2 separate regions of the Homo sapiens genome follow, and region 2 is linked to region 1. A link means that fine-mapping ties the variant in region 1 to the expression of a gene that starts in the linked region. Tissue or cell type: skeletal muscle. Region 1 holds a variant in brackets; the other region holds the start of a gene. All regions are shown on one strand. Distances are from middle to middle.

Region 1 (8,111 bases):
AAAACTGCTAGTTGATTCTGATTTGCCTAAATAAAAATCCAAACTCTTCCCCTAGTCTCCAACTCTATCTCTTATGCTGTTTCACAAATTTTGATTCCTATCACCCTTTTACTGGTCTATTTCAGCTCAGCTCGTATCTCGTTACTGAATGTTTTTATTCTGGTAAAAATGTACATAACAAGATTTGCCATTCTTGTCATTTTAAGTGTATACTTCAGTGGTATTAAATACATTTATATTATTGTTCAACAATCATCACCATCCATCTCCAGAAATGTCTCATCTTCCCAAACTGAAATTCTGTAGCCATTAAAACGCGAACTACCCAGTTCTCCCTTTCCCCATCTTCTGACAACCACCACCAATTTTCTGTCTCTATAAATGTGAATCCTCTAGATCCCTCATATAAGTGAAATCATACAATGCTTCTATAAATATTGGTGTACAAATATCTTATTAGTCCATGCTTTTAATTATTTTGGAGATATATCCAGAAGTGGAATTGCTGAATCATATGGTAATTCTATGTTTAACTTTTTGAGGAAACACCATGCTGGTTTCCATAGTGGATACACCATTCTACATTCCCACCAGCAATGCACAAGGATTTCAATTTTTTCACATCATTACCAACACTTGTTATTTTCTTTTTTTTTTTTAAATAGCCATCCTAATGTATATGAAATGGTACCTTCATATCATTTCAATTTACAATTTTCTAATAATTACTGGTGTTGAGTATATTTTCATGGTTCACTGACCATCTGTATAACTTCTTTGGAGAAATATCTATTCAAATCCTTTGCCTAGTTTTAAATTGGGTTGTCTTTTGTTGTTGTTGAATTTCAGGTTTCTTTACATATTCTGGATATTAACTTCTTATCAGACATGTGATTTGCAAATATTTTCTTCCATTCACTGGTTTGTGTTTTCATTCTGTTGATAATGACATTTGAGGCACAAACGTTTTTAATTTTAATAAAGTCTGATTTATTAATTTTTTGTTTTGTTGCCTGTGTTTTTGGTGTCATAGCCAATAAATCATTACCAATCCAATGTCATGTAGCTTTTCCCCTGTGTTTTCTTCTAACTTTTGTAAGGTAAGTGTCTAACTTTGTTCTTTCATATGTAGATATCCAAATTTCCAATACCATTTGTTGAAGAAACTTTCCTTTCCCCCATTGAATGATCCTGGCACTTTTCTAGAAAATCTTTTGATCATATATTCTAGGACTTATTTCTGGGGACTCTATTTTATTCCACTGGTCTATATGTCTGTCTTTGTTCCAATACCACATTATTTTTATTATTATAGCTTTGTAGTAAGTTTTTAAATCAGGAAATATGAGACCTCCAACTTTGTTCTTCTTTTTCAAGATTGTCTTGACTATTCAGGGTTTCTTGAGATACCATATAAAAATTTTAGAATGGGTTTTTCTATTTCCGCAAAAAAAAATACTTGGGATATTTATAGGGATGGCATTGAATGTATAGGTTGCTTTGGGAAGCATTAATATCTTTTTTTTTTTTTTTTGAGACAGAGTCTCGCTCTTTTGCCCAGGGTGGAGTGCAGTGGCGCAATGTTGGCTCACTGCAACCTCCACTTCCCTGCATCCCAGGTTCAAGAGATTCTTTTGCCTCAGCCTCCTGAATAGCTGGGATTACAGGCACACACCACCATACACGGTGAATTTTTGTATTATTAGTAGAGATGGGGTTTCACCATGTTGGCCAGGCTGGTCTCGAGCTCCTAACCTCAGGTAATCCTCCTGCCATGGCCTCCCAAAAGTGTTGGGATTACAGGCATGTGCAAGTATGTTTTTCGTACAATGACTTATTTTCTTCTGGGTGGATACCTAGTAGTGGGATTGCTGGATTAAATGGTAGATCTACTTTTAGTTCTTTAAGGAATCTCCACATTGTTTTCCATAGTGCTTGTACTAGTTTACCTTCCCACGAACAGTATAAAAGTGTTCCCTTTTCACCACATCCACACCAACATCTATTATTTTTTTATTTTTTTGATTATGGCCATTCTTGCAGGAGGGAGGTGGTGTGGCATTGTGGTTTTGATTTGCATTTCCCTGATAATTAGTTGAGCATTTTCCCATATGCATGTTGACCATTTGTATATCTTCTTTTGAGAATTGGCTATCCATGTCCTTAGACTATTTTTTAATTGGAATTTTTGATTTGTTTTGTTTTTGCTGATTTGTTTGAGTTCTTTGTAGATTCTGGATATTAGTCCTTTGTTGGATATGTAGATTGTGAAGATTTTCTCCCATTCTGTGGGCTGTCTGTTAACTCTGTTGATTATTTATTTTGCTGTGCAGAAACTTTTTAGTTTAATCGAGTCCCATCTATTTATCTTCGTTTTTGTTGCATTTGCTTTTGGGTTCTTGGTCATGAAGTCTTTGTCTAAGCGAATGTCTAGAAGGGTTTTGCTGATGTTATCTTCTGGTATGGTTTCAGGTCTTATATTTGAGTCTTTGATCCATCTTGGGTTGATTTTTCTATAAAGTAAGAGAGGATGATCCAGTTTCATTCTCCTACATGTGGCTTGCCAGTTATCCCAGTACCATTTGTTGAATAGAGTGTCCTTTCCCCACTTCATGTTTTTGTTTGCTTTGTCGAAGATCAGTTGGCTGTAAGTATTTAGCTTTGTTTCTGGGTTCTGTATTATGTTCCATTGGGCTATGTGCCTATTTTTATACCAGTACTATGCTGTTTTGGTGACTATGGCCTTATAATATAGTTTGAAGTTGGGTAATGTGATACCTCTCGATTTGTTCCTTTGCTTAGTCTTGCTTCAGGTATGCAGGCTCTTTTTTGGTTCCATATGAATTTTAGGATTGCTTCTTCTAGTTCTGTGAAGAATGATGGTATTTTGATGGGAACTGCATTGAATTTGTATATTGCTTTTGGCAGTATAGTCATTTTCACAATATTGATTCTACTCATCCATGGGATGTGTTTCCATTTGTTTGCGTCGTCCATGATTTCTTTCAGCAGAGTTTTTTAGTTTTCCTTGTAGAGATCTTTCACCTCCTTGGTTAGGCATATTCCTAAGTATTTTCTTTTCTTTTTGCAACTATTGGGAAAGGGGTTGACTTCTTGCTTGATTCTCAGCTTGGTCGCTGTTGGTGTGTAGTAGAGCTACTGATTTGTGTACATTAACTTTGTATCCTGAAACTTTGCTGAATTCATTGACCAGCTCTAGGAGCTTTTTGGATGAGTCTTTAGGGTTTTCTAGGTATACAATCATGTCATCAGCAAACAGTGACAGTTTGACTTCCTCTTTACTGATTTGGATGGCCTTTATTTCTTTCTGTTGTCTGACTGCTCTGGTTAGGACTTACAGTACTATTTTGAATGGAAGTGGTGAAAGTGGGCATCCTTGTCTTGCTTCATTTCTCAGGGGCAATTCTTTCAACTTTTTCCCATTCAGTATAATGTTGGCTGTGGGTTTGTCATAGATGGCTTTTATTACCTTAAGATAAGTCCCTTCTATGCTAATTTTGCTGACTGTTTTCATCATAAAGGGATGCTGGATTTTGTCAAATGTCTTTTCTGTGTCTATGGAATGATCATGTGATTTTTGTTTTTAATTCTGCTTATGTGATGTATCACATTTATTGACTTACATATGTTAAATCATCCCTGCATCCCTGGTATGAAACCCACTTGATGATGGCGGGTTATCTTTTTGATATGCTGTTGGACTCGGCTCACTAGTATTTTGTTGTGCATTTTTGCATCTTTATTCGTCAGGTATATTGGTCTGTAGTTTCCTTTTTTTGTCACATCCTCCCCTGGTTTTGGTGTTAGGGTGATACTGGCTTCATAGAATGATTTAGGGAGGATTCCCTATTTCTCTATCTTTTAGAATAGTTGTCAATAAGATTGGTATCAATACTTATTTGAATGTCTGATAGAATTCAGCTGTAAATCCATCTGGTCCTGGACTTTTTGTTGTTGGCAATTTTTAAATTACCATTTCAATCTTGTTGCTTGTTATTGGTCTGTTCAGAGATTCTATATCTTCCTGGATTAATCTAGGAAGATTGTATATTTCCAGGAGTTTATCCATCTCCTCTAGGTTTTCTAGTTTATGAGCATCCAGGTGTTCACAGTAGCCTCGAATAATCTTCTGTATTTCTGTGGTATCAGTTGTAATATCTCCTGTTTCATTTCTAATCCAGTTTATGTGGATCTTCAATCTTCTTTTCTTGGTTAATCTCGCTAATGGTCCATCAATTTTGTTCATCTTTTCAAAGAACCATCTTTTTGTTTCATTTATCTTTTGTATTTTTTTGTTTCAATTTCATTTAGTTCTGCTCTGATCTTTGTTATTTCTTTTCTTCCGCTGGGTTTGAGTTTGGATTGTTCTTGTTTCTCCAGTTCCATGAGATATGACCTTAGATTGTCTATTTGTGCTTTCAGACTTTTTGATGAAGGCGTTTAATGCTATAAACTACACTTTTAGCACCGCTTTTGCTGTATCCCAGAGTTTTGATACGTTGTGTCACTATTATCATTCAGTTCAAAGAATTTTTTAAATTTCCATCTTGATTTTATTGTTGACCCAGTGATCATTCAGGAGCAGGTTACTTAATTTCCATGTATTTGCATGGTTTTGAGGCTTCCTTCTGGAGTTGATATCAAATTTTATTCCACCGTGGTCTGAGTATTTGATATAATTTTGATTTTCTTAAATTTACTGAGACTTGTTTTGTGGCCTATCATATGGTCTATCTTGGAGAATGTTCCATGTGCTGATGAATAGAATGTATATTTTGCAGTTGTTGGATAGAATGTTCTGTAAATATCTGTTAAGTCAATTTGTTCTAGGGTATATTTTAAATCCATAGTTTCTTTGTTTACTTTATGTCTTGATAACCTGTCTAGTGCTGTCAGTGGAGTATTGAAGTCCCCCACTATTATTGTGTTGTCATCAATTTCATTTCTTAGGTCTAGTGGTAATTGTTTTATAAATTCGGGAGCTCCAGCGTTAGGTGCATA[T/C]ATATTTAGAACTGTGATATTTTCCTGTTGGAATAGTCCTTTTATCATTATATAATGCCCCTCTTTGTCTTTTTAAACTGCCATTGCTTTAAAGTTTGTTTTGTCTGATGTAAGAATAGCTACTCCTGCTCGCTTTTGGTGTCCCCTTTACCTTAAGTTTATATGAGTTCTTATGTGTTAGGTGAGTCTCCTGAAGACAGTAGAAACTTGGTTGGTGAATTCTTACCCATTCTGCCAATCTGTATTTTTAAAGTGAAGCATTTAGGCTGTTTATATTCAATGTTAGTATTACTTTTTTTTTATTGAGATGGAGTCTTGCTCTGTTGCCCAGGTTGGAGTGCAGTGGTGTAATCTTGGCTCACTGCCAACCTCTGCCACCCGGGTTCAAACAATTCTCGTGCCTCAGCCTCCCAAGTAGCTGGGACTACAGGCACGTGCCACCATACCAGGCTAATTTTTTTTGTATTTTTATTAGAGACGGGGGTTTCACCATGTTGGCCAGGCTGATCTTGAACTCTTGACTTCAGGTGATCTGCCTGCCTCGGCCTCCCAAAGTTCTGGGATTACAGGCATGAGCCTCAATGTTAGTATTGAGATGTGAGGTACTATTCTATTCATCATGTTAGTCATTGCCTGAATACCTTGGTGGTTTTTTTTTTTTTCAGCTAGTCCTGCCTCCTATCTGCCATCTTAATCCCCTCTGATATCTTAATGATATTGAGTCTTCCAATTGTGAACATGGGATGGGATGGGATGGGATATCTTTCCAATTTTGGTGTTTTTTTTCATTGTTTTTGTTTTATAGGTCCTGTGAGATTTATGCTTTAAGGAGGTTCTATTTTGGTGTATTTCGAGGAATTCTTTCAAGATTTAGAGCTCCTTTTAGCAGTTCTTGTAGTGCTGGCCTGGTATTGGTGAATTTGCTCAGCATTTGTTTGTCTGGAAAAGACTATCTTTCCTTCATTTATGAAGCTTAGTTTCGCTGGATACAGAATTCTTGGCTGATAGTTGTTTTGTTTAAGGAGGCTAAAAACAGGACCCCAATCTTTTCTAGCTTGAATGGTTTCTGCTGAGAAATCTGTTAATCTGATAGGTTTTCCTTTATAGGTTATGTGATGCTTTTGCCTCACAGCCCTTAAGATTCTTTCCTTTGTCTTGACTTTAGATAACCTGATGTGCCTAGGTGTGCCTAGGTGATGATCTTTTTGTGATTAATTTCTCAGGTGTTCTTTGAACTTCTTGTATTTGGATGTCTAGATCTCTAGCAAGGCTGGGGAAGTTTTCCTCAATTATTCCCTCAAATATGTTTTTCAAACTTTTATATTTCTCTTCTTCTTTGGGAACACCAATTATTCTTAATTTTGGATATTTAAGATAGTCCCAAACTTCTTTAAGGTTTCATTCTTTTTAAAAAATTCTTTTCTCTTCATCTTTGATGGATTGGGTTAATTCAAAAGCCTTGTCTTTGAGCTCTGAAGTTTTTCTTCTGCTTGTTCCATTCTATTGCTGAGACTTTCCAGTGCATTTTGCATTTCTCTAAGTGTGTCCTTGATTTCCAGAAGTTGTGATTGTGTTTTATTTATGCCACCTACTTCACTGAATAATTTTCCTTTCATATTCTGTATCATATTTTTTATTTCTTTAGGTTGGACTTTACGTTTCTCTGGTGCCTCCTAGATTAGCTTAATAATCAACCTTCTGATTTCTTTTTCTGGCAATTCAGAGATTTTGTCTTGGTTTGGGTCCATTGCTGGTGAGCTGATATGATCTTTTGGGTTGGAGGGGGCGGTTTAAAGAATCTCGTTTTGTTATATTACCAGAATTGTTTTTCTGGTTCCTTTTCATTTGGGTAGACTATGTCAGAGGGAAGAGCTAGGATTCAAGGGGTGCTATTCAGATTCTTTTGTCCCACGGGGTGCTCCATTGATGTAGTGCTAACCCCCTTCCCCTAGGGATGTGGCTTCCTGAGAGCTGAACTGTAGTGATTGTTTTGCTCTTCTGGGTCTAGCCACCCAGCAGAGCTCCTGGGCTCCAGGCTGGTACTGGGGAGTGTCTGCAAAGAGTCCTGTGATGTGATCCATCTTCAGGTCTTGCAGCCATGGATACCAGCACCTGCTCCACTGGAGGTAGCAGGGGAGTGAAGTGGACTCTGTGAGGGTCCTTGCTTGTGTTTTTGTTCAGTGCACTGGTTTTGTGTAGGTTGGCCTCCAGCCAGGAGGTAGGCATTTCAAGAGTGCATCAGTTGTGGTCCTATAGGGAGGAGGCAAACTTGCCCTAGGGATACCTGGTTAAGCATTCAGGTTTCTCAGGTGGTGGGCAGGGTCAAAGAGCTCCCAAGAGATTATGACTTTTGTCTTTGGCTACCAGGGCAGGTATAGAAAGACCACCAGGTGGGGGCAGGGATAGGCATGTCTGAACTCAGCCTCTCTTTGGGCTGGGCTTCCTGCAGCTGCTGTGGGGCTGGGCTTCCTGCAGCTGCTGTGGAGAATGGGGGTGAGTTTCCTAATCCAATGGAGTTATGCTCCCAGGGGGATTATGGCTGTCTCTGCCGAGTCATACAGGTTGCCAGGGAAGTGGGGGAAAGCCGGCAGTCACAGTCCTCATCCCACTCCCATGCAGCTCACAGTCCTAAAGTCCAGTCTCACTCCTACTGTGCCCCCTCAACAGCACTGAGTTTATTTCCAGGCAGCTGGTGACCAGGGCTGAGAACTTGCCCCAGACCACCAGCCTGCCCGCTGAGAAAGCAAGCAGATTTACAGGTTTTTGGCATCTCAGGGAGCCTGCAGCGGTGATCCTGTCCTTAAAAGGGTCTGTGGATTATCTCGGCTTTTCTGGTATGTTCCTGTGGTAGTTCTTGGAGCAAAAGTTAATGATGTTAGTCTGCACACACTGCTCTCTCTGTCCAGGTGGGGGCTGCAAGCTAGTCCTGCCTCCTATCCGCCATCTTAATCCCCCTGATATCTTAACGATATTGAGTCTTCCAATTGTGACCATGGGATGGGATGTCTTTCCGATTTTGGGGGTTTTAAAAATTATTTTTCAGCAATATTTTGCAGTTTTCACTGAACAAGTGTTTCACCTCTTTGGTT
Region 2 (8,111 bases), 310 kb after region 1:
TTGTCTGCCTGCACAAGATAAAGGACTTGCCTCTCCTGTCTTGCAAGGCTTGTGGGTGAAAATTCAAGTGAATGAGGGTGCATTCCTATCCAAAGCTGAGGCTAAGTCCTTACAGGCAAGTTATAGGAAAATGAAAATAAATTTTGAAATCTTCCTTTCTAAGGGAATTAAAGTTGATTTCTCAAGAGATTTTTTTGGGAGAAAAGGGAAACTTTAGCTTGCAAAAACGGTTATTTTAGCAAACAAGGTAAAAGTAACAAGCATGAGACCAAGCAATTTCTGAAATGAAAGTTAACTAATCTTAGCTTCAAGACTACTTTTAATCCTTTTGGAATGAAGTACAAATTGATCAGTTTCTCCTGTGTCCTCTATGAGATCTACAAGGATCTTTGGTTTGGCAACTAATATTGCAAAAGATAGATGTAATTAGCAAATGGATGCAATTAAACACCTGAAAAGTTTTACTGCTTAAAATGGTTCCAACATATTCCTCCCCCAAGAAGTCCATTGTAAAATGGAAATTTTAAATGGGCCATTTTTAGGGGAAATTGGGCAAATTAAATAGATAATTTGTTCACCTTGCACCACCATGCAAAAGACCATTAAAACAACTACAGTTCTTCAAAACATGAGATTGGCATTCCCAGTATAAGGGGTAGAAATCTTAAACCTTTTGAACCTTGGAACACAGAAAGTTTGCTGTAGCTCACATCTAGTCACGGATCATTTCCACAGATGTTAGAGTTTGCAAAATTCCTCCAATGGGTGATCTGAAAATATTGAAATGTTCTAAAAACACCAGATTCAATCTGAATGGGAAATGAACTCATTGATCTTTCCAGAAAGTCCAACCTAAATATTGCACATAAAGAACTTGAAGGAATGCAAAACGATCATTTTGGAGAGTTGAATATCTTTGGGCTCTGAAGTAGATGCTACAGCTCCTACTTAAATGCTATGAAGTTGCCTGGGTCATTCAAAATCCACTGTTTCAATTATGAATGCATAACCAAGGAAGAACTGATGATAGAGTAATCTGTGCTATCAAACAAGATTTGCAGCACCGTCTGCCTTCCTTCTTTACCTCCTCCCTGCTCCTTAAAGAACCAAATTCTCTCAGGACATGTTCCTACCCATCTAAAGACCTGAGTTCTGATGTCTTGGTCCCCTCTGTGAGTTTGTGGCCCACTTACAATCACTCAGAATGTTACTGTCCCTTGAGGGCTACCACGTTTATTCGAAACAAATCATTTTCATTAACAATTTAACACAGCTACCCACCTCAGTGAGGTTCTTCCTGAGCCTATTCTAATAAGTTTATTCCCCAAGCCTCCAAAAGAGAAAGATTTTTAACCACTGAAATCCAATTTATCACATTCATATATGGATTTCAACGGGTGTTTCTGAAACCATGGTTTTAGGGTCTCCCCATGCGAGAATCAACAGGGCTGCTTTTCTTGTATAATGGTTGGGCGATTCGGTGAACTGTAGCATTGCTTCATAACTCAAGTTGGCAAGAAAACAGCTCATAGATTTTTTTGCCTTTCTTAGGTCCCAACTAATATTATGAGCAAATAAAAAAGTTGGTAACTAGAGAGCAATTAATCTCCTTTGGCGTTCCTGTCATCTGTGTGGCCTCCCAGGCTGTGATGGAGAACATCAGAAAATGAATCGCTTTATAAATATTCACTTTTGATTTACAAGATCCTGAAGTCCTGCCTTTGTATTCTGTGCAGAAATATGAACCAAGAAGAGTTCCCTCCCCAGATCTCCTCACTGTTCAATTTCTCTTTATCTCTTCAGCTTTTTCTTTTAGGGAAGGGGGTGGTTCAAAACATGTGTTGGGACTGCAGCAGTAAACACTAGCAAGCATTGCTCAGCGAACTTAGCCGACTCTTATTCTTGCAAAGAGCCAAACTGTCCTTAATTTTTCAAATTATACTTTGACCCAGTTAACTGGAGTTATTTCTGCATTAACTCTCTGTCTGCTTCACACAGGCTGTTGTGCCATTGAACTTGCACTGGCTCTTTTACAGGTTACTTAGACATGTAGCCATTGACATGCTTCAGGGGATCCAGGACCCAACAAGAAAGCAACAACAACAACAAAAAAACAAAACCCTGCAACTAACACAGGTAGTGGAGGTGGGATGGGAGAGTTCCTGTGTTTTACAAGAGAAAGAGAAATGTATCAAGTACCAAAAGAAAGGTATTTATTAAGGTGCTTCCATGAAACAAGCATTCACATTGTTCATCTGCGTTAAGCAAAGGGACCAACTGCTCCTTGCCCAGCTGTGACTGCAAGGCAATCTGGGCCATCAAGTGTCAGGAGCCCACTTTCAGAACAGGTCTCCTGGGTAGAACAGAAGCAAAGAGACATCCCCACAGGAAGGCTAAGGGATGAACACATGTCAGCCAGTTCTTCACGCCCCACAGTGTCTCTTTAATCCTCCTGAGAGGCTTGACTGACCTTGTAATCTCACATTGACTATCATCTGTGGGACAGCCCCTAGGGTAGCAATTTTCTTTCCGACAAACAATAAGAAAGACACTGGAGTCCCAGGCCCTTGTCCATCAGCTGAAATCCTCTCCCCACTCTACCACCCAGCAAGAAAAGTTCAGTTAACTGGTGGTGTGTTGCCACTGAAAATGGCAGTTTTAACCCAGGGTATCTCTTGTTGGAGGAAATGCTTTCATTGCTGCTTATGACTGACAAACAATGCCTCGCATTTGGCTTGCAAAACACCTTTCTATCATTTCATTTCATTCCACACAACTCCACCTTCAAAATGGGCACTGGGGGGACCCAGAGAACTCAAATAACTTTAGTGGCAGGGCTGGGAGGGACTGGAAAGCAGGCTTTCCGGGCCCTATGTTCTGGCAATATACCACGTTGCTTCCAGAGCCTAGTGTCTCAAATTCTGACCCCCGTAGTCAGGGACAAAAAATGAGGCAGATGGCCAGAGGATAGGATAGGGAGCCTTTCGCCCATCTACCCTGCTACATTAACTTTACCATGTATTCATCAGCAAAATGAGAAAACAGGCTCAGGAATACAGGCAGTGATTAAGGGGACTGCAGAGTCCCTTGGGTAGCTCAGGGTGGAGTACCTAAGTGACCTCTCAAAGCGCCAGAGCATAAAGAAATGCAGGCCGAGTGGGGAGGGACGAGCTGTGAGTTCGAATTCAGAGACCCCCAACTTGCTTTGGTCAGAAGCCTTGGGCCCCACCTCCATCCAGGTTGCTAACTGCTGGAGCACAGAACAGGTTGGGGTGGCAGGGGAATTTGGGGCACCCTGGGGAAACTTCCAGGGACGGCTCCGGCCAAGAGAAGGCAACCCACCTGTGCAAAGGCTGGAAAAGGAGGTGAGGGAAGCGGGCGCCGGGCACTGCTCACTAACCTGGGCACTGGCCTTCTCCGTCTGCCACGCGTGCACGCGCTCCGAGCTCCCCGGGGCGCTCTCGTCCGAGGTCTGGGGCTGGCAGGTTGTGGCGAGAGCTAGAGTGCGCGCGAGGGGGGAGGGGGAACTCAAAAGTGGGTGGGAGGAAAAACATCACCGCCCTCACACCACGAGGGAGCAGCGGCTTGCTCGGCTCCCGGGGGCAGAGCCAAGGCGCGGGCGCGGCGGCCCGGGGCCACCTGCCCGCCCTCCCGCTCGCTCCCCACTTGGCCCGAGAAGCCGGCCGCTCGGCGCTGGCGGGAAGTCCGCAAGCACGCAGCCGCTGCAAGCACGCACACTTTCTCCACCCCGGCACAATGGCTTTATTTCTGCTCCCCCGGCCCGAAAGTTTAAAAATCGGGAGAAAGTGTGAGACTCAGCCGGCTACTTTCCCATCACACAGCGCCCCCACTGCAGCCCCCACTCCTTTGGCTAGGCGAGCGTTGGGGTCTTAAAGGGACCGCACAGCTCCTCCGGTCCCTCCTCCCCCTCTGCACTGGATGCACCTAGGAGCTCCCCACCACTCGCGCACGCCCTGAAGATACCGACTACCCTCTGACTCCCCTGCCTGGAAGCCCACACCCGCTCTCCTCCGGCACCAAGGCCTTTCCGAGGTGTGCACCTGGTCTGGTACTGAGCTGGTGCCCTGGACACAGAATGAACCCTCCTCGCAAATCACGCCCTAGCATGCTGCTTATCATTTCACGGCGTTTCCCATATCCACACTGTGGCTAACAGAGTGACAAAGCTTTGGTTTGGTGTCCTTAAAGGCGGGGTGGAGATGGGTGTGTGTAGGGTCAGGGATTAGAAATCCACTTTCTCTTACAAACTGGGCTCCCAAGCCTCATGGAAAGGGCCTGTTCTAACTGTTAAGTGTCTTGAAGAAAACTTGGTGCCACACACTATACCCACCATTTTTTTTTTAAATGAGTCCCTAAGCTTCTAAGTTGGGCCAAGAGCTCAACCTGGAAATCACAGTAGCACTGCTGATGCCTTGGTGGGCCTGCCTACTCCAAATTTGTGTTTATTCAACAAGTGATAGTTGCAAAGAATTGTCAGAAACTTCTAGGGTCCAGGAAAGTGCTGCCTCGACAGACAAAATTTTAAGCCCCTAAATTTGGAGAAGAACCGCAGAGCTTTTTTCTAGATGAACTAGATAAATATCTATATTCCTAACATCTGTATAGTACTTTATGGCTTACGGAGTGTTTTCACATACATCAACATTACTTTTTAAACCCTCAAAACCAACCGAACTACCTGAGGTCTCAAGTGTTAGAGTTGGTGGGGAACTTCTGAACCATTCAGCTTAACTTCATCATTTCACAGAAGAGGAAACTGAATTGGGGGAAGAGGATGATGTATCTAAGGTCACACAGCTAGTAAATGACAAATTTGAGATTCCAATCCAGATTCCCTGACTTTCAACCCACTACTCTCTGGTTGTTATCTCCAGTCTGTAGATGAGGAAATTGATGTTCAGAGAAACTGTGGCTTGTCAAAAAAACAAACAAACAAACAAACAAACCACTTATCAGGAACAGAAAACAAAGAAAAATTAAAACAAGAATAATTGTCCCTGAACGTTACCTCCTTTTGCTTTTTCAGAAGTGTTAATAGTATCCAGCTAGCCCCTGCATTGCTGGTGATGTTTATTTCACTGTTAACAAAGGAAAGGGGGCCCTTTCTGTAATGTTGCCTTCAGGGCCCAAAATGTCTAGCTCCGTCCTGCTGCCTGGGTAGCCATACACTGCCACATGCATTCAATTTGTGCTGTTGTATATCGGTTTGAACTTGCTGATTTGTTGCCTTATAACTGTTCTCATGCCGTTTAATGCAGTGATGTTTTGTCTTACTAGATTGTGAGTTCTTCAAGGGCAAGGACTGGTTGTTCAATTTCTCTTGTGCGTGCATTACCCAACTCCCATCATTACTTCCAACATGCTTACAGAGTATTCTGGAAAATGAGTTTCAAGGGATAGTCTGAGACAAACATAAATTCTAGCATTTAAAATAAATAGACTCACTGGGATTTAAAAGTTCATCTATTTGGCTACAACCACTCACTCCCTTGCTTGGTGTAGAATCCTAATTACTGCATAACAAACCATCCGAAAACCTAGTGGCTTAAAGCAAGCAATTATTCTCAATTGGTTCTATTGAGTTGATTCTATTGAACTTGCTTAAGATCTCTTATGCAGTTGCAGGCAACTGTATATGGGGCTGCTGGAATTCTCTGACAGGTTTTTCATTAGTGTAAATGTTAGTCATCCTTGTATTTTGTATTAGTTCCAATCTTGATTTCTGAATTGAGAACTCCCATTTGGGTGAGTCCTAATCTAGACATCCTACCAGGTCTTATAGAAACTTAAGTGATGATTACCTTCATGCTTTATTTTCTCTGTTTATTAAATAGGGATGAGAGCATAATCTCATACTCATTTTTTAAAAAGTTTTATTTTAAGATAATGGTAGATTTACATGCAGTTGTAAGAAATAATTCAGAAAGATCTCAAATACCCTTCACCTAGTTTTCCCCAATGATAACATCATTCATAAATATAGTACAATGTCACAACAGGACACTGACATTGGTACAATCCATTCATCTTACTCTGATTTCACCAGTTTTATATGCACTCATTTGCCTGTGTATATAATTCTATGCAATTTTATCGCATGTGTATATTCATGTGACCACCACCACAGTAAAAATATAAAACAGCGCCATTACCACAAGGATACCCTGTATTACACTTTAATAGTCACACCCATCTTTTCCCTTCCTCCTCTCCCTACTCCCTGTCAACTACTAAACTAAATTGTCCTACATCTCTATAATTTTGTCATTTAAGAATGTTACGTGGAATCATACGGTATGCAACCTTTTGAGATAGTCTCTTCTCTCTTCTCCCCCAACCCTGATATAATTCTCTGGAGACCCATTCAAGTTGTTCCTGGTATCAATAGTTTGTTCCTTTTCATTGCTGAGTGGTATTCCATGGTAGGGATATATCACAATTTGTTTAAACCATTCATCTATTGGAGGGTTGAGTCTAGATTTCGGTTACAACTGCTATGAACATTTGTCTACAGGTATTTGAATAAGCGTAAGTGTTCATTTCTCTGGGATAAATACCCAACAATGTAGTTCCTGGGTTGTATGGTAAATGCATGTTTAGTTTTGTAAGGACTGTCATACTGTTTTTAGAGCAACTGTACTATTTTATATTCCCACCAGAAATGTGTGAGAGATCCAGTTTATCTGCATTCTTGCCAGCATTTTTTGTTGTCATTATTTTTTATTTTAGCCATTCTGGTAGGTATATAGTGATATCTCATTGTGGTTTTAACTTGCATTTCCCTAAAACCTAATGATATCTACCATCTTTTCATTGTTTATTTGACACCTGTATATCTTATCACAAATATTTTATCCCAGTCTGTAGCTTTTCTTTTCATCCTCTTCCCTTGAACTTCCACAAAACAAAATTTTTTAATGTTTTATGTCCAATGTATCAAATTTCTGTCATATAGGTCATGTTTTGGCATTAAGTTTAAGAACCCTTTACCTAGCTCTAGATCCTGAATATTTTCTTCTATATTTTTGTTTTAAAAGTGTTATAAAGTTTTACATTTAATTATGATCTATTTTGAGTTAATTTTTATAAAAGGTATAAGGTTTAGGTTGATGTTCATATTTTGCCTATATATTTTTGTCCAATTGCTCCAGTATCATTTGTTGAAAAAGCTATCTTTCTTTCATTGAATTGCTTTTACACCTTGATCAAACATTGGTTGGTCATATTGTGTGAATCTATTTCTGGCTTCTCTATTTGATCCCATTGATCTATGTGTCTATGCCTCCACCAGTACCACGCAGTCTCGATTACTGTAGACATATGGTAGGCCTGAATTTCAAGTAGAGTGGGTCCTCCCACTTTATTCCTCTTTTTTAGGGTTGTTTTAGCTACTCTAGGTCTTGTACCTTTCCACATAAACTTTAGAATAAACTTGTCTATGTCTACAAAATATCTTACTGGAATTTAGCTAGAAATTGCATTAAACCTATTGATCAATTTGGGGACAATTGACAAATTTAATTTGTTGAGCATTCCAATCCATGAACACAGTATCTCTCCATTTATTTAGGTCTTCTTTGATTTCATTCACCAGTGTTTTGTAGTTTTCAGCATATGACTTCTATACATATTTTGTTAGACTCGTATCTACATATTTCTTTTTCTTTGGAGCAATTGCAAATGTTATTGTATTTTTAATTTCAGTTTCCATGCACTCATTGCTAGTATATATGAATGCAAGTAGTTGTTGTGTGCTGATCTTCTATGCCATGTGTTGCAGAACTCATACTTATTTAAAAAATAAATATGTAAGTGGAGGTATTATGAAATGATTATATACAAAATAATTTTCTGATAGCACAAACTTTTTGCCTTTTAGTGCTTCTTGTCCCACTGGGACTTAGAAAACTCAGGTTATTAAATTAACTTTCAAAAATGGCAGAATACATAAAGATTGATGAGTATATTGTACTATAGGTTTACCTCTTTTTAGAAAAGATGCCACCAACTTAGAGTTTGTATTAATCAGATACTTGATTCAATATATAGAAGTTGACAATTCTCTGTAAAGACCCCTTAGGATTATTCAG

Which allele goes with the higher level. Positions count from the first base shown, and alleles are read on the strand shown. Sizes are in standard deviations (SD) of each study's normalised expression.
With allele C in place of T in region 1, the expression in skeletal muscle of the gene that starts at base 3,474 in region 2 is lower (small effect, 0.24 SD a copy in GTEx).

Evidence for each region. PIP is the estimated chance that this variant, and not a neighbour inherited with it, causes the effect.
Region 2: it holds the start of CHRDL1, and the variant in region 1 is fine-mapped to the expression of CHRDL1 in skeletal muscle (GTEx, PIP above 0.99).

What each region holds. Positions count from the first base shown.
Region 1 is chrX:110,484,515-110,492,625 of GRCh38, forward strand. No RefSeq gene overlaps it. Among named protein-coding and RNA genes, the nearest start is that of CRIPTO3, 32 kb to the right of the region's middle. The variant T/C (reference allele first, on the strand shown) is at 5,023.
Region 2 is chrX:110,792,344-110,800,454 of GRCh38, forward strand. CHRDL1 (chordin like 1) reads right to left here and starts at 3,474. Exons shown (of 12, transcript NM_001143981.2): 1 at 3,401-3,474.